Linked DNA regions of Homo sapiens. The protein of the gene in region 1 interacts with the protein of each later gene in a pairwise test. Each region holds a gene or a part of one and is shown in the gene's direction. Other genes may lie near its edges.

Region 1 (4,881 bases):
GGTCAGGACACACCCGCAGGGCAGCAGGTGCAAGAGACAGACAGGCCTGGGTTTGAAGAAGTCCAGGTTCTGCATTGTGGTCAGGCCCAGGGGCTGCACAAGCCGGGCCTCAGCTCCTTCTCCTGGGCGAGGGCAGGGAAGTGGTGGGAGCCATAAGGGTGATGCCAGGGTGAGGCAGACCCACCATCACTAGAAAATATCTTCCGGGTGCACCACTGCGAAAGCACCCCACACTTGGGAGTCCCTCGACAGACAAATCAGGGGCCTCCAAGGGAGTCTTGCTGGAGGGGAGCACTTGCGAGGCTGGGCGGAAGCAGCCAGAGACCAGGGTAAGGAGTGAAGCCCAAGCTTGTGGGGCCTGCAGAGAATGGCAGGAGGATTAACTGAGCACTTACTACGTGCCGGGCACTGTGCTGTTGTTACGGCGGGTCCTTGCTCCCGGAGCTCCCAAGATCGTGGTGGCCACTTCCAAGAGGGCAGCAAGCCTCGTGTTCTCTGACCTGGGGTTCTTGGCCTCACGGATTCCAAGGAATGGAATCCTGGGCCCTGCGGTGAGTGTTTTAGCTCTATTAGAAGCCGTGGGTCACGGAAGAGAACCGTGGAACCCAGCGACCAGTGTTCAGCTCGATCAGGATGAACCCAGGCAGTTAGCTGTGCAGGAACAATGGCGAGCCTCTAGCCCGATTGGGAGCGGCAATGGGTGTCTCCCTGGATCACGAGCACAGTGGACACCCTGCCGGATCCGGAGGGTGGAAGTCAGCGGCGGGTCTGCGACGGCGGCAAACAGCAGTGGTGGACGGCGAGCGAAAGCTCAGCTCAAGCCGTAACAGACACGGACCAGAAGAGTGTGCAGTTTCAAGTTTTAATAGAGTGAAAACAGAGTTCCCATACAACGGGAGGGGACCCAAAGTGGGTAGCCGTTGCTGGCTGGAATGCCTGGGTTTCTATCCAGATCATTGTCCCTTCCCCTGTGCTCTCAGGTGATAGATGATTGGCTATTTCTTTACTTCCTATTTTTGCCTAACTAGCACTTTAGTGAGCTCTCTTTACTACCTGATTGGTTGGGTGTGAGCTAAATTGCATGCCCCGTGTTTAAAGGTGGATGCGGTCACCTTCCCAGCTAGGCTTAGGGATTATTAGTCGGCCTCGGACATCCAGCTAGTCCTGTCTCTCACTGTGGCTTGCATGCTTGCACCTCCTGAATCATGGTGGTGGGCCCTTCACTGATATTTAAGGATTAACTTTTTTTTTTTTTCATTTTTGAGACTAAGTCTCACTCTTGTCGCCCAGGCTGGAGTGCAGTGGTGCAATCTTGGCTCACTGCAACCTCCACCTCATGGGTTCAAATGATTCTCCTGCCTCAGCCTCCCAAGTAGCTGGGATTACAGGCGTGCACCACCACGCCCGGCTAATTGTTGTATTTTTAGTAAAGACGGGGTTTCACCATGTTGGCCAGGCTGGTCTCAAACTCCTGACCTCAAGTGATCCGCCTGCCTCAGCCTCCCAAAATGCGCGGATTACAGGCGTGAGCCACCTCGCCCGGCCAAGTATTAACTATTAACTAACATCTCAGTTCCCTCGTTCACGCTCAGGCTAACCTCTAAGTGTGTCCACGTGCTTGGCACTCTCCTAAGCACTTCTAGTCATGCAGCCCACTCGAGGCAATATTCTCAAGCCAGTGTTGTTGTGCTCCCCACGTTACATGTAGGGAAACTGAGGAACGAGAGGCTAAGGTTACCGAGACAAGAGTTACCCGGCCAGTTAAGCGGAGGGGCTGGGGTTGAGACCAGGCAGCCTCTGCCTCCAGACGTCATGCCCTCCAGGGATGCGATGGGATCTTTGGTGCAGTCTTGAGAACGAGTATCTCCACTCTGCAGGGTGGGGTTGGGGATGGGGAGCTCGGAGAGAACACATCACGTGTCCCTGGTCACAGGGCACATGTGTGTGGCCCGGCCAGGGGATAGTCCCAGGTGCTCAGGACCTGTATTCTAAACCGCTCCAGTGTCCTGTCTCATGATAACACTATTTCACAGAGGACCTGGGCTGTGGCCCAGACACAGTAAACAGCAGGAGGCTGAGCTTGGAGGGTGGTGAATGTGAGGCTGAGCTGGGGGGCAGGGTGAATGCTGGTGGAGGGTTGCTGTTCCGCCGGGGTGCCTGGAGGCAGGTTTGTGGTTTCAGCCCTACCCTCTCCCCTCCCAGGTGGCTGGCCTACGTCCTCCTGCTGCTCCTGGAGCTGCTGGTCTGCCTCTTCACCCTCCTGGGCCTGGCGAAGCAGAGCAAGTGGCTGGTGATCGTGTAAGTGCAGGCAGTAGGGGGACCCAGTGCTTGCCTGGCACTCTCCTGGCAGGCAGGACCTCAGTCTTACAACTCTCCTACACGGAGGACCGTGGTCCTTCACGGCCGGGTACACACGAAGAAAAGAGAGTCAGAGCAGCCCAGGAGGGAGGCGGGGACAGACCTGAAAACAGGCAGCCCTAACAGTATGAAGTATGCTGGAATCATGGCAGAAATAATCATTGTGTTGGCAATAAAGATGAGGATGAGGCCAGGCGCGGTGGCTCACACCTGTAATCCCAGCACTTTAGGAGGCCGAGGTGGGTGGATCATGAGGTCAGGAGTTTGAGACCAGCCTGACCAACATGGAGAAACCCTGTCTCTATTAAAAATACAAAAATTAGCTGGGTGTGGTGGCATGCGCCTGTAGTCCCAGCTACTCAGGAGGCTGAGGCAGGAGAATCGCTTGAACTCAGGAGGTGGAGGTTGTGGTGAGCCAAGATCACACACCATTGCACTCCAGCCTGGGCGACAGAGTGACACTCCATCTCAAAAAAAAAAAAAAAAAAAAAAAAAGGCTGGGCGTGGTGGCTCACGCCTGTAATTCCAGCACTTTGGGAGGCCGAGGAGGGCGGATCACGAGGTCAGGAGTTCGAGACCATCCTGGCTAACACGGTGAAACCCCATCTCTACTAAAAATACAAAAATTAGCCGGGCGTGGTGGCGGGCGCCTATAGTCCCAGCTACTCGGGAGGCTGAGGCAGGAGAATCGCTTGAACCCGGGAGGCGGAGCTTGCAGTGAGCTGAGATTGCACCACTGCACTCCAGCCTGGGCGACACAGTGAGACTCCATTTCAAAAACAACAACAACAAAAAAAAAAAACAGATGAGGATGATGATCTATTGAGGGTCATGCACGCTGAGTCCTTCAGTTGCCTCCACCCCATGAAGGAGCTACCATAAGGCTCCATGTGGCCGGTCAGGGACCTGACTAAGAGCGCAGAGGGTGGCCAAGTCCAAGACTGAGCCGTCCTTAAGTGTCGTGGCAAAGCCGCAGGACCACACTGATTTCACAGCTCGCTCTACGCGCCCGACACTCTTCTCTGCACTCCCTGGAGCACCTCATGCCCCCTGTGAGGAAGGTGCTTCCTTCTGCCTGTTTTTTATTTCTGTTTTTTATTTTGAGAAGGTCTTGCTTTGTTGCCCAGACTGGAGTGCAGTGGCATGATCACGGCTCACTACAGCCTCTGTCCCCTGAGGCTCAAGTGATCCCCCCACCTCAGCCTCCAGAGTAGCTGGGACCATGGGCTTATGCCACCACTCCCGGCTAAGTTTTTTTTTTTTTTTTTTTTTTTTTTTGAGCTGCAATTTGGCTCTTGTTGTCCAGGCTGGAGTTCAGCGGCGCGATCTTGGCTCACTGCAACCTCTGCCTCCTGGGTTCAGGCAATTCTCCTGCTTCAGCCTCCCAAGTAGCTGGGATTACAGGCGTATGCCACCAAACCTGTCTAATTTTGTATTTTTAGTAGAGATGGGGTTTCTCCATGTTGGTCAGGATGGTCTCAAACTCCTGACCTAAGGTGATCCGCCCGCCTCAGCCTCCCAAAGTGCCTGGATTACAGGCATGAGCCACCGTGCCTGGCCTAAGTTTTGTATATTTTTGTAGAGATGGAGTCTTGCTATGTTGCCCAGGCTGGTCTCGAACTCCTGGCCTCAAGTGATCAGCCTGCCTCAGCCTTCCAAAGTACTGGGTTTACAGGCATGAGCTACCATGCCTGGCCCTTCTCCCTGTTTAACAGAGGGAGAGACTGAAGATCAGAGAGGTTGGACCACTTGCTCAGGGCCACACAGCTAGAAGTGCTAGAGCTGGGATTTGAACCAGACAGGCCATTCTCATTGGAGGAGTCCCTGCATTCTCTCTGGCCCTGGTGGGGTGAGGCAGAGTTGAACCTGTACCTCCATTGCCCCTGAGAGAGTGGGAGAGACCCCGCGTAAGGCTTGCAGACCCATAAACCTAGCCAACACAGGGCAGGTCTGGGACTGGAAGCCAGGCCTTCAGTTTGGGGACCCCTGGGTGCCCTTCTTGCTTACTGGTCACCCTACCAATGCTGACACGCCCCCTGCACCCCTCCCCACCCGGAAAGTCCAGAGACTTTCAGATTTCAGCCCTGGCACTGTCTCCCATTCTCAGAGGAGACAGGGCAGAGCCAGAGGCTGATCAGGCTGTGGGTGGACTTGGGGGAGCCTTCGGGGGAAGTGAGCCCAGAGGTGAGCAGTCACCGTCCCAGGGTCCTGGAGCTGGGATCCAAGCTGCGACCACCCAGCCCAGGGCCCTGCTCATACCCCACACCCTGCTCATCTGGGCAGGAGCCAGATGTCCAGCTGGACATCAGCAGCCACTGGCCTACCCCCAACCACTGAACTTGTGTTTCCCTAATTCTGATCCTCCAGGCTCCAGAGGTGGGTGGAGGTGGGGGGCGGCTGTGATGGGATTTGGGGTGTGGAAAGAGGCTAGGCTAGGAGATTAAGAACCCCGGGCTGATCCTCCCTCCCCCACTCTAGGATGACAGTCATGAGTCTCCTGGTTCTCGTCCTGAGCTGGGGCTC
Region 2 (4,881 bases), on another chromosome or scaffold:
TGTGTTGCCCAGGCTGGTCTTGAAACCCTGAGCTCAGGCAATCCACCCGCCTTGGCTTTCCAAAGTGCTAGGATTACAGGCGTGAGCTACCATGCCTGGCCTGTCTTTCTGTTTTCCCCCATGGTCCCAGGAATTAGGGGCACCTGGCACATCATGGGTGCTCAGTATGTATTGATGGAAGGAATGCAGTGTACACAGTGCTTCAGGGAGCCTGGTATTCCAGCCCTGTTTGTGCGGTTGCCTGTTTTCTCATGCCTTTCAGAGTCACTTCTTGAGTGTCATGATCCTGAACTTTTTATCGTGTGAATTCATTTGCTTGGTGACATGTATTGACACCTGCTTTGCACAGCAGCTGTTCTAGGCTGTGTATGTAGTGGTGAACGAGACCAACAGTGCCTGCCCTCTTGAAATCTGTTCTAGTTAGGAGTACAGACATTAATCATCAAACTGTACCACGATGAGGATTATGGAGCTTATAGGAGGGATGCTTCACCCAGCAAACATTCAAAATCTATTATTCACTGTGTATGTTTGAAGATGAAAGCAAAGCACTCACACCAAGCCCTAAAGTGAAAGGCTGGAGGGGTCTTCATGGGTTGGTTAGGCCAGCGCCTTACTTCTAAGGCAGAGTGACTCAGGGGCCTCTCAAGCCAGAAATGTGTCTGTTCTAATCCCCCCGCTTTCTGGAAAGCCCATTCTCTTGGTTTGAACGTGACGTGTGCAAATTCTGCCTCTGTTCCTGCTTTCAAATCCACTCGGCTCCTTAAGTAAGCCTCCTGCAGGCCGTTTTCCTGATTGCCTGGTGAACGGCCTGCACTTTGGGAAAATGCATCTGAGAAATTGCATTGGCCCTCCTGGGTCACCGCCTCTTTCTTCCCACCAGAGCTGGCCTGGAGGTGGAGGCCCCCTCAATGTTTGGACCTAAAGGAAGTGATGAGAATGAATCAGATGTGGGTGTCTTGGACCCCTTCCCTTTTCCTGTGCCCAGCCCCACTTAGCCTTGGCTTCCTGCCCCATTCCACTCTCTAGCTTCCCTGCAGAGGGAAAGGAGCTGGGCATAGGTCTCGAGGCCCCAGTTCCTCTGGGGTCAGAACATGGGAGCTGGTCAGCCTTGAGCATTTCATCCCCTCTCCATATGTCTATTTATGGAAATGGGCTTTTAAAAGGCCACTGGTTGGCTTAGTGATTTCCACTAGGTCTTCCCACCACCTCAGGGCTGGGAGGAAGGGGTCCTGCTTAGCACTGTGGCTGGGAGTGTGGGCTGGGGATGGAGGAAGAGCCGTGGGGCAGAGTGAGGAGCTACCAGGGCAGGGGAGTGTGTGTGTTGGGAGCAGGGTGGAAGGTGGGGGCCTGGATGTGGGTGGCACTGAGCCATCCTTGGGAGATTGTGGAGGGTCCAGGGTGTTAGGGGCAGTTTCAGAGATGCAGCATGGGCCACTGGCTTGAGGGAGAGCCCAGCAGGAGAGGCCCAGCCTCCTCCTCTTCCTGGCAGGATTTCTGGGTCTCTGTGGTCCATAACCTCATCCCATCTCTACACCTCACCTTCCTCCCCACTCCCATCCATCCTTCTCTCCTTCAGTTCCCATGTCTTCCTTCTGTGTGCCCCGTCTTCCCCTCCCCCTTCTCCTGTCCCATCAATTTCTCCCGCTTTTCCTCCTCCCCCTCCTTTTTTCACCCTCTCTCACCCAACTAAGCGTCATTCTGTCTTAGTGATCCATCTTCCCTTCCATCTCTGTCTTTCCTCCTCCTCAGAGGAGGAGGCTGTGATCACAGAAATATCTGTGAGGGGGAGGAGGGGGCCGAGCCAGGGAGAGGCTGGCAGAGTGACACTGCCGAGCATGGCAGGCTTGGCTGCTGCTCAGAGCCAGGCAGCCTGGTGCAGCCAGGGCTGGAGCAGGAGCTTGGGGGTCTGGCTGGTTAGGGTTCAAGCCCTGCCTCTTTTGCCTCATAGCTGGACGATCTTGGGCAAGGCATTTTACCTCCTTATGCTCCAGGGGTCATGACATCTATCACACAAGTCTGTTTGAAGAGTCAATTAGATAATATACATAAAATACCAGGCACATAGTAAGTGCTCAACAAATTTCAGCTAGGCAGTGACTCACAACTGTAATCCCAACACTTTGGGAGGCCAAGGCAGGAGGATTCTTTGAAGCTAGGAGTTCGAGACCAGCCTGGGCAACATAGCGAGCTCCTGTCTCTAAAAATATATATAAAAAATTAGCCAGGCCTGGTGGCACATACCTTTAGTTACAGCTATTCGAAGAGGCTGAGGTGAGAGGATTGCTTGAGCCCAGGCAACAGAGCAAGACCCCATCTTTAAAACAACAACAATAGTTGTTCGTGCCTCTCTTTTCCTGTTGTTGGTAAAATATGTTTCTGGGGAGCTCACCACCTTGACCCTTTCTAGGGAAAAACATCACTGCTGTCACCAGCACCATCACCATCATTATCAAACAGCTGAGCCAGAGACTAATAATAATGACAACAATAGCTAACACTTCTATGGGACTTCCTATGTGCTGGCACTGTTCTAACTTTCAGTGTATTATTTTATTTTATCCTTATTATAATCCTATGAGGTAGATGCTATTTTAGTGCCATTTTACAGAACAGAAAGTGGAAGCATAGATGAAGTAACTTGCTTAAGGTCACTCCACTAGTTTGTAACAGAGCCAGGATTTGAAACCAGGCAGTCTGGCTCCAGAGTCTGTCTTGTAACTCTCACACTATGATCAGATGATGGTAACAAAATTTAATTGTGGGCTGGGCGTGGTGGCTCACGCCTGTAATCCCAGCACTTTGGGAGGCCGAGGTGGGTGGATCACCTGAGATCGGGAGTTTGAGACTAACATGGAGAAACCCCATCTCTACTAAGGTACAAAATTAGATGGGCATGGTGGTGCACACCTGTAGTCCCAGCTACTTGGGAGGCTGAGGCAGGAGAATCGCTTGAACCCGGGAGGCAGAGGTTGTGGTGAGCCGAGATCGCGCCATTGCACTCCAGCCTGGGCAACAAGAGCGAGACTTCGTCTCAAAAAATAAATAAATAAATAAATAAAATTAATTGCACAAAGGAATACATAAATACACTTTAAAAATTCAACAATAGGGATGAAGGAAAAGACCTCCAAATTCCAGCTAATCACCTTTCACTCCCAGGGACATGCATCAATTTAGGATATGTCCTTCTAGGTCTTTTTTTTTTTTTTTTTTTCTGTTAGGACAGAGTGTCACTCTGTCACCCAGGCTGGAGTGCAGTGGTACAACCACGGCTCACTGCAGCCTTGACCTCTTCTGACTCAGGTGATCCTCCCACGTCAACCTCCGGAGTAGCTGGGGCTACAGACGCACATCACCATGCCTGGCTAATTTTTGTATTTTTTGTAGAGATGGGGTTTCACCATGCTGCCCAGGCTGGTCTTGAACTCCTGGACTCAAGCAATCCACCTGCCTCGGCCTCCCAAAGTGCTGGGATTACAGGTGTGAGCCACTGCACCTAGCCCTTCCGGGTCATTTTCTATGTGCTTATGTATTTATACAGGTACTTAAAGAAACTTGGTGCTTTGTGTTGGATATTGTTTTTTAAACAAATAGGATCATGCTGTATCTATTACTTTGCAACCTGCTATTATAATTTAATAATCATGGAGATCTTTTCATTTGATTGATTCATTCTTTTAAAACATCTGTGTAGTATTCTGTAGTGGGAATTCACCGTGGTTTATTTAAGCCACTCTTCTCTTTTTTTTTTTTTTTTTTGAGACAAACTCTCACTCTGTCACCCAGGCTGGAGTGTGGTGGTGTGATCTCGGCTCACTGCAGCCTCCACCTCCTGGGTTCAAGTGATTCTCCTGCCTCAGCCTCCTGAGTAGTGGGACTACAGGCATGCACCACCACACCTGGCTAATTTTTTTATTTTTAGCAGAGACAGGGTTTTGCCATGTTGGCCAGGCTGGTCTCGAACTACTGACCTCAAGTGATCTGCCCACCTTGGCCTCCCAAAGGGCTGAGATTATAGGCGTGAGCCACTGTGCCCAGCCTAAACCACTCTTCTTTTGATGGACATTAAGGCTGTTTCCAATTTTTTCCTATCACAAGTAGTGCTGTGGGACACATTCTTGGATATGTGAAGCGTGCAGACATGAATGTAGGTGTTGGCTGGAAGCTGTATGTGTGATTGTTGGCTGGAAGGGCCCTGGATTGTCCTTCAGGAAGCTGCCCTCTGACACTGATACAGAAGGGAGATGCAAACGACAGGACATGGCCCCAAGGGGCTGCGAGGTGCTTATGGGGGAGAGAGAATCCAGAAGGGTGATGCCAGCATCAGCCAGATGCCGGGGTGTGGACTAGTGACAGCCATTGGCTTCTGCTCCATGAGGGCCTCTTGCTGACAGTGGTGGGGTTTCTGTAACCCCACCTGACTGGGCCCATGGATGCCGTCTCCAAAGGTGGAAGCAGCTTGGTGAAGTGGGCAGAGTGGTGTTCCTGAGGCCAGAAATGATGGAATCCCTAACTCAACTCTTAACTGCTGTGTGACTTCTGGCAAGTCATTTTGCCTCTCCGAGCCTCAGTTGTCTCATCTGCAAAATGGGGATGACAATGCCTACCTCTCATAAAGACTGAATGACCTAATGACTATCAAATGCTGATGTGTAGTAAGTGCTCGAGAAATGGGGATGATAATGCTGATTTGTTCAGGGCCACTCAGGTTTTGGTTGGAGGCCTTGTACTGGAACAGTGTGACCTTGGGAAGGGTAGAGTGTCCTCTACCCTTTCTGAGCCTCAGTTTCCTTCTCTCTTTCCTCTTCCCTGTGTTCTTGAGTCAACTCTCTGGAAAGCAGAGGAGAAAGAAAAACCTGGAGTTGTTCCCAGGGAGAC
Region 3 (4,881 bases), on another chromosome or scaffold:
AATAATCATCTTTCCTTTTCACATTTCATGCTTACCAAGTACTTGTCACCTAATTATCTCCTCTCTTGATAAGCTAGATGGTCCCTTCCAGGGCAGCTTAGTAGAGAGCATGGGATGTGATGTTTCAGATTCCAGCTCTGCTGCACACCTGCCAGGTGAACTTGGCCACGTTACATGGCCTCTCTGGGCTTCAGTTCCCTCACCTATGAGTGGGATAAGCAAGCCCTTCTTGTAAAAGTTTTAAGAACGATACATGAGATAAAGTGCAATGCCCACAGTAGATGTCTTATGGACAGTGGCCACCAATGCATTTTCTTGAGTCTTTAAGTTAGCAGCCCTAACTACTCTCCAAGGCAGCTTCCCCTGGGACCACAGAGGAAATCTCTTTGTTATTCTGGGCTCCAGATAGGCCAGTGCAAGGAGAGATTTAAGATGTCCATGAAGGCAGGACTGTGTCTGAATTGCTCACAACTGTGTCCAGGAGCCTAGGATAGAGGCTGGAACACAGTAATTTGCTCAATAAGTGTTTGTAGGAAAGAAGGGATGGCAGAAAGGAGGGAAGGAGAGGAGGAAGACAGGGAGGAAGGCCCTGATATCTCAACCTAGATCCCCAGTGGCTCCCAAGTACTGGTCCCAGGAGGGGCTTCAAAGTGGGATGTAAATCAGGTAGTGCTGGTTTTCTGCCCAGTGGTACCCTAAAGGCACACTCTGTTTATGCCAGGAAAGCCCTTTACGTACCCTCCTGCCTCCACCCGCAAAATGGGCATCCAGCTGTTAGCTCCTGCCAAACTGGTCAGCGCAGCAGCACAGGGAGCTGGGAGAGAGGCCCTGGTACGGGGCCCCCATGTGAGCTCCCAGGAAGACAGTGCCGCATGAGAGGCTTGCTGTGTTCTGGGGCAAGCTGCTGTTTCTGCCACACAGGATGACAGCAGCTGCATTGCCCATCATTGAGCTTAAATGCCAGCATTTGGTTGGATGCCTAGGAGCAGAAGAGAGGGCAGTGATCAGAATGAGCAAGGTTATAATTAGCCCTGCTGCCAAGCTACACGGTGACACGAAGTCTGCCCTACTCCGGGTTGCGGGAGGGGGCTTTCACGCTCCTCTCTGCTCCTATTGGTAGAAGCCAAAGGTGCATCTCCCTGTCCTGACTCCATCCTCAGGGAACTGGGGCTGCTCCAAGCTTCCAGAGCGCTAGGGACAGCTGCCGTGAGTGTGTGCCTGCGTAATCTGCCATGAGTGTGTGCCTGTGTGTGAATGGGTGTTACGTGGGGAGGGGGGAGGGCGGTGCGTTCATGTGTGTGTGTGTGTGTGTGTGTGTGCCTGTGTGCATGTGTGTATGAGAAACGTGCTCCTGCCAGGAGCTAGACTCTTCATTTCCCATCCTACCAAGGACACAGCTCATCACAGCAACCCCTCCGCCTACCCCAGCCCACTCGGGTGTTCCTCGAGCACTAGCCCAGATCTGCCTTCTTTCGTTCTCTGGGTATAAGAAGGAGCAGAAATTTCTTCTCTGTTTCATGGCGAGTCTTCATCTTCACCATTATTCTTAACAGATCATTTTGGGGCCCCGACTCTGCCATGTACTGGGCCAACCACTGAAGGGCTTGCCTGGCTCAGCCAGAGCCTGGGCCAGAGCAGGACTAGGAACTGAGCCCACAGGCCTTGGGGAAATCACTGCACTTTTTGGAGGCTTGGTTTCCTCATTGGTTCTCAGTTTCCTCACGGGCATTCTAAAATTTTACCTGGAATCTAATTTACAGAGGTATGGCTGAGTGATAACACAGGGAAGCCAGTGCCATTGGGAAGAGTTTAACGTGATACACAATGTCCCTAGAAACCAGATGCTCAGCCCGCCATGTGGGGTGCAGGGGGAAGCAGCAGGCTTGGGTCAAGAGTCAGAATCAGGGGTGAGGGAAAGCCCAGGCTACAGCCCTGTTGGGGCTCCCACAGGAAGTGCAAGGCAGGGCAGATTAAGCAACCTAGGGTTGGCTAGTCTCAACATCCTGGCAGGCTTTGGGCTACAGGGGTGATCTCTAGTTGTCTCTCTGGTACCTGAGATAATTTGGGACAGGGGAAATATTGTCTTGGTGTGTGTGTGAATTAGAGAAACGGGGTGGCTGGCTTGCATTTGAGAGGCATCCTTCCAAGTCAGTCATTTTCTGTCTTCAGGAATTAACTAGCTCTGGGACAGTAAGTCTCTCTCTGGGTCTGTGAGGCTCCCAAGTGCCAGAATATCAGGATCAGAGAAGATAGAAAAATATAGTCAATATAGGTGTCTCTGTGATGAATGGGTGCCAAATACACAAATACAGAATCTAAGAAAACACATGGGGTTAACAAAGGTTGCAGAGATTAAGGTTTAAAGTTGAGGCCCTCCGTATAAGTTGGCTGTCTTTCTTCTAGCACAGTAATTGGCAATAAGTGGTCTTATGTATCTGGGAGAAGATAAGCGAGGGGCAAGGGCCTCAGACACCCATGGGCATCACTCCCCACACCCCAGCTGGATGCCCACAAGACTTGCAGCTGCCTCCTGAGTCTGTGGCCTCATCGGCTCCAGGAGTACCAGGCTACAGGACCTAAGCTAATCTCCCACTCCTGCTGTCCATCCATTATGTTGCTTTGTCCCCAGGTGGTAGGTGAGTGGAAATTCAGCAGGATTCACTGTGACATCTTCGTCACTCTGGACGTCATGATGTGCACGGCGAGCATCCTGAACTTGTGTGCCATCAGCATCGACAGGTGAGCCCAGCCAGGGTGGAAGAGGTTGCTCTGGCCACTCACCATTCTGGCTGCCCCAGCTTTTCTCAAAGCCAGGCTGTGTCTCGTGTCTGTGATGCTGTGCAGCTGGCTGTGTGCATGGGGGTCCATGTGTTTGTGTGTATGGGTGTGCATGTGTGTATGTTTGGCTAGGAGAGCACACACTCCCTAAAGAGAAGCCATCTATGGACAGTGATGCTGCCAAGCATACTCAGACAGTGACTGGTACAAAAGGGGAAAGATTGTGATTCTGACGGAAGCCCTAGCTCTAGCACATCTTACTCATGTGACCTTGGGCAGATGATGGACGTTTTCAGAGCTCTCAGTTTCATTTTCTAGAAACCTACATTGATGACACCTGTGGCCTGGAGCTGCAGTATCTGGTTATGCATTTTATGTCCTTGGCACATGGCCAAGGGTCCCAGGCCATGCACACCTTGCTAAGCTGCATCCTTGGAGCCTTCCACTAATTTGCACAGATATGACCCTACCTCCCTCACACCATTCTTGGAAGATGAAATAAGTTAATGAATGAGAAGGGCTGGGTAAAAAAAAAAATGTGATGAAGGATTGTAGACAATTGCCATTGTTATTTCCTGCTAACTAAGGCTTAAATCTTGCTCTGAGGGGCCTGGCTAACAATTTATCAACAAACATTTCCACCTTATGGGCTCAACACAAGTGCAGTGGGTACAGTTTCAAAAGTGCAAAGATGCAGGCCATGGTTCTTCGAAAAGCCTGAAATCCAGGTGGGGCCGGTTAGAATAATAGATATGAGCTAAGAGTAAACAATAGCTCACCAGTGATTAAGTGTTTGGGCTTTGCCAACTGTCCTCGCCATCTGAGTTTGGGGACAGGAGGGAGGGTTGAGTTAGCATCTCAGGCAAGCTTCATAGAGGTGTGTCAACTGTTTAGCCCCAAGGAGTGAGGGTGTCTCTGGTGTGTGCATATTGTGGAGTGAGGGGTCCCTGGGCCTGCACCCCAGATTCAGGGTCCCCCGCCCTTGCAGGTACACAGCTGTGGCCATGCCCATGCTGTACAATACGCGCTACAGCTCCAAGCGCCGGGTCACCGTCATGATCTCCATCGTCTGGGTCCTGTCCTTCACCATCTCCTGCCCACTCCTCTTCGGACTCAATAACGCAGGTACATTCTGCTTTTGTTTGCCTGAGGCTCAGCTGGCCCTGGGCCCCTGCTCCCTCGAAGGGCCCTGAGGGAGCAGAGTCCCTGGCACAGATATGGGTGGAGGCCCAATGGAGGCCTATCACTACCCTGGACTGAGTCCAGGCTACGTGTCCTGGGCCAAGCCCCACTCAAGAGTTGTTCTAGGTTGGCAGAGAGGAAACAGTGGCCCAGGACACAACGGAGTTGGATGAGGAGTGGGGATAATGGTTCAGGGGTATGTCTGGGAATTTTCAACTTTGGTTATTAAGTTGAAGAGGCAAGACGTGCTTCACAAACTGCATGTGTGTATATGTGCACATGAACATGGGATGGCGGAGGCTACTGGGCTTCCATCCACTCCTGACAATAGTATTTTTGTAATGAAGCTGCAGCCCTCAGGGCCTGCTAAACCCAGGTCAGGCCTTAGCCACCTGGAGCAGGAAAGCTAGAAGTGAATAGGAGGTAAGCTGACCACATGCCCATTTCTGTGGGAGGCAGAGTCAGGAGTGTCTCAGACAGAGGCAACACAAAGCCCCCGCCAGCGTGGAACTTCCTCTCATCAGGGAGGCAAGAGCGATGGCAGGTGTGCACCTCTGGAGATCGTAACAACAAAAGATACAGTGAAGCCTTGAAAATGTGTGGTTCGGTATCTATTATAAGCATCACAGGAATTCTAAGTGGGAATAACACTAAACATACTTGGATTAATGCACAAGGCCCTGAGATAGAGGACAGGCGTCTGGTAGACCTAGAAGGGCACGCAAACATATGAAACACATAGGAACACAAGTGAGTTCAACAGACAGAGCCAAGTTATCTTGCTGCAAACATTAAAAGGTGGCCAACCTCTCCCAATACACAGGTCAGACTAAAAAGATGGTTTACTCTTTTAAAAGTTTTCTTGTGTCATTCTTTCTGGATACATCGGCTTCACTTGTTATGCCCAGACATGGCAAAACT
Region 4 (4,881 bases), on another chromosome or scaffold:
TCTGACTGTCTTCCATGCTATCCCATCTAAATTCTTAAGTCATTTTTTGTTCCTGTCTTTTCCCATCTCGGTTTCTTAATTTTATTTTTGTGTGTTTGCGTGAACTTAAGCAAAAATAAGACTTTGGCCAGCGTGGCACATAATTTGTTTAACATTCTCAAAGTTATACATTTGTTATTTGTTATGGGTGGAAAGATTGGCTATTTTAAGGGATTGACCCTAAGACTAGAAAATTTCTTGGGAAGAAGGGGGCACATCTAGTTTCCAAACTTTGGAAACAAAAATCATTTTGAGTGAAATTGCATTGTTTCATCCTACAGCTAGTGTCCTGGCCCACTATTGTGGTAGGTGGACTTTGCTCTTTAAATGGCCTCTCTTTAAACACCAGCTCTTGGAAGGGGCCCAACTGTTTTGCTGCCAGTTGTGTTTTTAGCCAGCTGGCCCTTGATTTTCTCCATTCAGACTGTCCATTTCATTTATGGAAGCAGAAGAAGGGAAACTGTAAATATTCCGCAGCCCCTGATCCTGTCTGGCACCAGGGCCTGTGACACTATGTTCAACATTGTTCCAGGCCTAAAGCTGGGGGATAAGTAAACAGAAAACAGTACCTACTTAGACGGACCAAAGCTGGAGACAGTAAATAAGACCCTCTGTTATCTTGACAGGGATCAGGTGCAGGATCATTCCATGACTATGAAATCAGCTGTTGCTGCTTTAGCAGCGTCCATGATTTCTCCTGTTGCCAAGCTTGGCGTATCTCTGAAACATCTACTTTGTTTGGTAGACAATTCATTTTTGAATTGTGAAGGAGCCAGTTGAACTCATGTTAGAGAATATGTGTCTATTTACCAAACTGCCTCTTCAAGGTCAGTTTCAAATTTCTTTTTTTCTTTTTTTTTTTTTATCAGAAGAAATTGACTTATGCAAGAAAGAGACAAAAGTATAAAGCGGACAAGAGAGGTACCTCAATGACAGAGAAGTGTATTGGCTTATCTCACTGGAAATGTACTGGACATGTAGAAATCTGTATACACTAGAGGGAAAAACAATAGGACAGAAAAAGGAAATTGGGGAAAGAAAAATAAAAACACCAAAGTTCTTGAAAGAACACCTTAAAAGAAAAGAATATCAAATTCAGGAAAGATTATAAAAACTTTGGTTAATTTAATGAGATATAAGCATTTTGAGCAATGGCATTTATTATGTACTTATTTTAATTTTCTTTTTCCGTAATTCTGAGTTTGTACAAATGTAATACTTTCTTTCATTTGTATTTCACTTTTTAATTTAATCAGCTCCTCCTTAAGAGTGCTTTGTTTTTTGCCTCTTATTATTAGTAAAATCTTTTACTTTCTGTATTTTTGCTTAACTTTTCCCCATCCTAGTAGCTTTCTCTATTTTTCAGTTATTAGTGCTAGCATTTATTTTTCTTAGAGAATCAAAGGCTTAAAAAATTCACTCATTTATTTTTTAAAATTACAGTATAATATACATTTTTACTGTTAAAATAGTGAATGAACATCTTAATATGTAGCATTTCTATATTTCTACCTAATCCTTATTACTCTGAAATAATTTTAGAATGGTTTATAAAAATAATTATTGGACAATATTGCTGGCTTCATAATTCCTGATTACTGAGAACAAGAACTACAGTCCAAATCTCAAAATAAAAGTGTGTCTCCAGGAGGCACTGATGTTTTCACAAAAGTAAGAGGTATTTAGGGTTTCTCCTACGTTGGGTTCCTGCAAAAACAGGCCCTGAGATGTAGATTTATTGGGGCATCAAGTTTATTGGGTTGTGCTCTCAGGTTCAACCTATTAAGGAAAGAAGAAAGCAGGATTGGGCGGGCAAAGGGAGAAGTTGAACTGTGATGCAATTGCCACAGAGACCTCAGCTGACACCATTAGGAGCTTTAGGGCTGGGATGGCCATGCAGCCATATCCCAAATTGAGGCAAGAGGGCTCAGCCTTTACATCTCTTTATGGACCAGTCATTAGATGTAAGACATTGGATGCAAGCCTGCTCCCAGGATGGGGTATAACCTTGAGTTGGGTGGATCTCTTTGGTCAAGGGCAATTCCTAGAGAGGGATGCAGCTAAGCACTGTCAACCAATAGCCCCAGCAGCTGGAGGAATCAGTGCTTCATTCTTGAAGGACTTTGGAGGGAGCTGTCTGGGTGGAAAACCACAGCATCCACTACAGTAGCTTTTTTTTTTTTTTTTTTTTTGAGACGGAGTCTTGCTCTGTCACCAGGCTGGAGTGCAGTGGCACGATCTCAGCTCACTGCAACCTCTGCTTCAGGGGTTCAAGCTATTCTGCCTCAGCCTCCCAAGTAACTGGGACTACGGGTGCGTGTCACCACACCCGGCTAATTTTTTTTGTATTTTTAGTAGAGATGGGCTTTCACCATGTTGGCCAGGATGGTCTTGATCTCCTGACCTTGTGATCTGCCCACCTCTGCGTCCCAAAGTTCTGGGATTACAGGCGTGAGCCACCACGCCCAGCTTACAGTAGCTTTTGAACAATCATGTTAAATCAGACATAGATAATGTTCTAATCCAACTCCCTCATTTTAAAGATGAAATTTGAAGCTCAGAGACTATCCTAAACATATATACCTGGTCAGTAGCCACCAGACCCTTGGTCTCAATGCTTCATGTTTATATTTGCTGATTAGACCAACCTGTATGAAGCACAAGCTTTATCCAGTGAGTGTTTTCTTTTCCTTTCCGCTCCTTGGCATCTGAAAAATTTTTTCTTTTTTTAATCCACTAGACAGGAAAAAATAAAAACCCGTAAACATCATTTGTTATATAATGAAATGTATAGCTTCTTTTGTTTCTCATAAACTGTCAGTAAGTTCTGCAATTGGTAGTTAATTAAAATTTTTTAAATTGCAGTAATCTGAGACAACTATACTTTTTAATTTGCCTAGCATGATGACTTTAATGACCAAAAAGTTATATAGGTTAAATTTTATGTTCTTAAAATCATGAAGTATGTTAGATTGGTGAAGGACATTACAAGTACATTACATTTGTTCAAACTTTCTCCAAATCCCCTTCCAAAATTTTGCCTCTGACCTCAAGACTTTTAAAAATTTTTTGACATCTTGTCTACTTTCATATTTCTAAATTTTGCCATTCCTTCACTTGTTACTTTCTTATTTTATTTCTTGGCTATTTTTCCTTTCTTTAACTATGTATAATACCTTCTTATAGATTTATGATGTAGCATTCACCATTTTCCAGTAAGATGTTTAACCTTTTTCAGTGTTTTTATTTTTAATTTTTTCGTAGTTAATTTTAAATTTTATTCTCAATAGATTATGATTGAATTTTATAATTTTTCTCTCCCAGCTTCTCTTTTGCTTTATTTTTCTTTTCTACCACAGTTCTTTCTCCTGTACAGCTTGAGCGTTAGCATAATCTGAAGGGAATCGTGGGATTTTGGGGAAGATTTGGGTTTGTGTAGAAAAATATGAGGTACTTCTTGAGTAAAAACTATACTTTTTCTAATTTTCATTCAACTCCTCTTTCTATTTTAATTTGTTGGCCTAAAGCTTGAGGATAGCACCCAGCTTCCAAGGTCTATTGTGAGAAAGGAAGTTTTATGATGTTTAATATTGCCGTGAGTGAGAATGTTCTGGGAACTGTTGTAGTTGATGACTTTTCCCTTTCTATTCCAGGATTATGACATCTTTATGGCCTAATAATAAATCTCATAAAGTCGAAGGACAAATGAAATGGTAGGAAATGCCAGATAGGAGAGAAGAAAATTTGGATAGATCATGGCCGTCCTCCTAGACACATCAGTTTAAAGTGGTTTATTACTTAGCCACAAGAAAAAAACTATACTCAAAACAAAACTTGTATATGTAGTGTGCTTTTATGTGTATTAGGGGAGGTGGAGATATGTGTGGGTGTGGATTGCAATAGGAGAATGGCAGAGGAGTTCTCTACCATACCTACCATTCACTTAGGAATCTAACAAGTGTTTAAAACCAAATAATTTGGGCCAGGTGTGGTGGCACACCCCTGTAATCTCAGCACTTTGGGAGGCCTATGCAGGCAGATTGCTTAAGCCCAGGAGTTCAAGATCAGCCTGGCCAACAGGGCGAAACTCCATCTTTACAAAAAATACAAAAATTAACGGGATGTGGTGGTGCATGCCTGTAGTCCCAACCATTCAGGAGGCTGGGGTAGGAGGATTTCTGGAGCCTTGGAGGTTGAAGCTGCAGTGATCCATGATCATGCCACTGCATTCCAGCCTAGGTGACAGAGTGGGACCCTGTCTCAAAAAAAAAAAAAAAAAATTCAAATAATTCAGACATCAAATATGGCAACTGGAATGAATCTTTGCTCATTATTTAATGGAAGTCAGAATCAAGGTATCATCTGACCGAGATCCCAGATAACAGATTAAGGTCTGTTTGGACATTAATTGGAGGTTTTGAATGATCGAGATTCTCTTTAGTTTAAAGAACCCACACCTTCATGGAGTGTTGTAGAACAGAAGGCTTCAAATAATTATAATGAGATAACCCCAGATCTAACTGTATTTTTATTTTACTGGGATAAAACTCCTGCACAGAGGTGGAGAGAGAATAAAGGGAACATGTCTTACCATGGCCTCTGGTCTGGGAATAATTTGTGACAAGTCTAGAATCTTTTCTAATGAGAGGAACCAGCTTCTCCAATGACTTTAGCAATACTGGTTTTAAGTTGAGTGGAACAAATGGCTCTTTCATTGCCTTAGATTGTAGCTAGCACTGACAAGAAAGAAAGGGTTTTTGGAGGTTGAAGATGACAGTGCCATACAACTATCTGAGTCTACACAGATTTCCCTAGAACGCCTGTATTCAAGTAATAGAACAT

What was found.
Region 2: the proteins of TTYH1 (region 1) and HTR6 interact in a two-hybrid assay, tested with the Homo sapiens proteins (one large-scale study listed by BioGRID and IntAct).
Region 3: the proteins of TTYH1 (region 1) and DRD2 interact in a two-hybrid assay, tested with the Homo sapiens proteins (one large-scale study listed by BioGRID and IntAct).
Region 4: the proteins of TTYH1 (region 1) and GPR37 interact in a two-hybrid assay, tested with the Homo sapiens proteins (one large-scale study listed by BioGRID and IntAct).

What each region holds. Positions count from the first base shown.
Region 1 is NC_000019.10:54,424,471-54,429,351, forward strand, and holds part of TTYH1 (protein tweety homolog 1), read left to right. Parts: intron 1-2,202; coding exon 2,203-2,298; intron 2,299-4,836; coding exon 4,837-4,881. UniProt on the Homo sapiens protein: Calcium-independent, swelling-dependent volume-regulated anion channel (VRAC-swell) which plays a pivotal role in the process of regulatory volume decrease (RVD) in the brain through the efflux of anions like chloride and organic osmolytes like glutamate.
Region 2 is NC_000001.11:19,670,663-19,675,543, forward strand, and holds part of HTR6 (5-hydroxytryptamine receptor 6), read left to right. Parts: intron 1-4,881. UniProt on the Homo sapiens protein: G-protein coupled receptor for 5-hydroxytryptamine (serotonin), a biogenic hormone that functions as a neurotransmitter, a hormone and a mitogen. Also has a high affinity for tricyclic psychotropic drugs.
Region 3 is NC_000011.10:113,415,885-113,420,765, reverse strand, and holds part of DRD2 (D(2) dopamine receptor), read left to right. Parts: intron 1-2,629; coding exon 2,630-2,739; intron 2,740-3,766; coding exon 3,767-3,903; intron 3,904-4,881. UniProt on the Homo sapiens protein: Dopamine receptor whose activity is mediated by G proteins which inhibit adenylyl cyclase. Positively regulates postnatal regression of retinal hyaloid vessels via suppression of VEGFR2/KDR activity, downstream of OPN5.
Region 4 is NC_000007.14:124,758,505-124,763,385, reverse strand, and holds part of GPR37 (prosaposin receptor GPR37 precursor), read left to right. Parts: intron 1-4,881.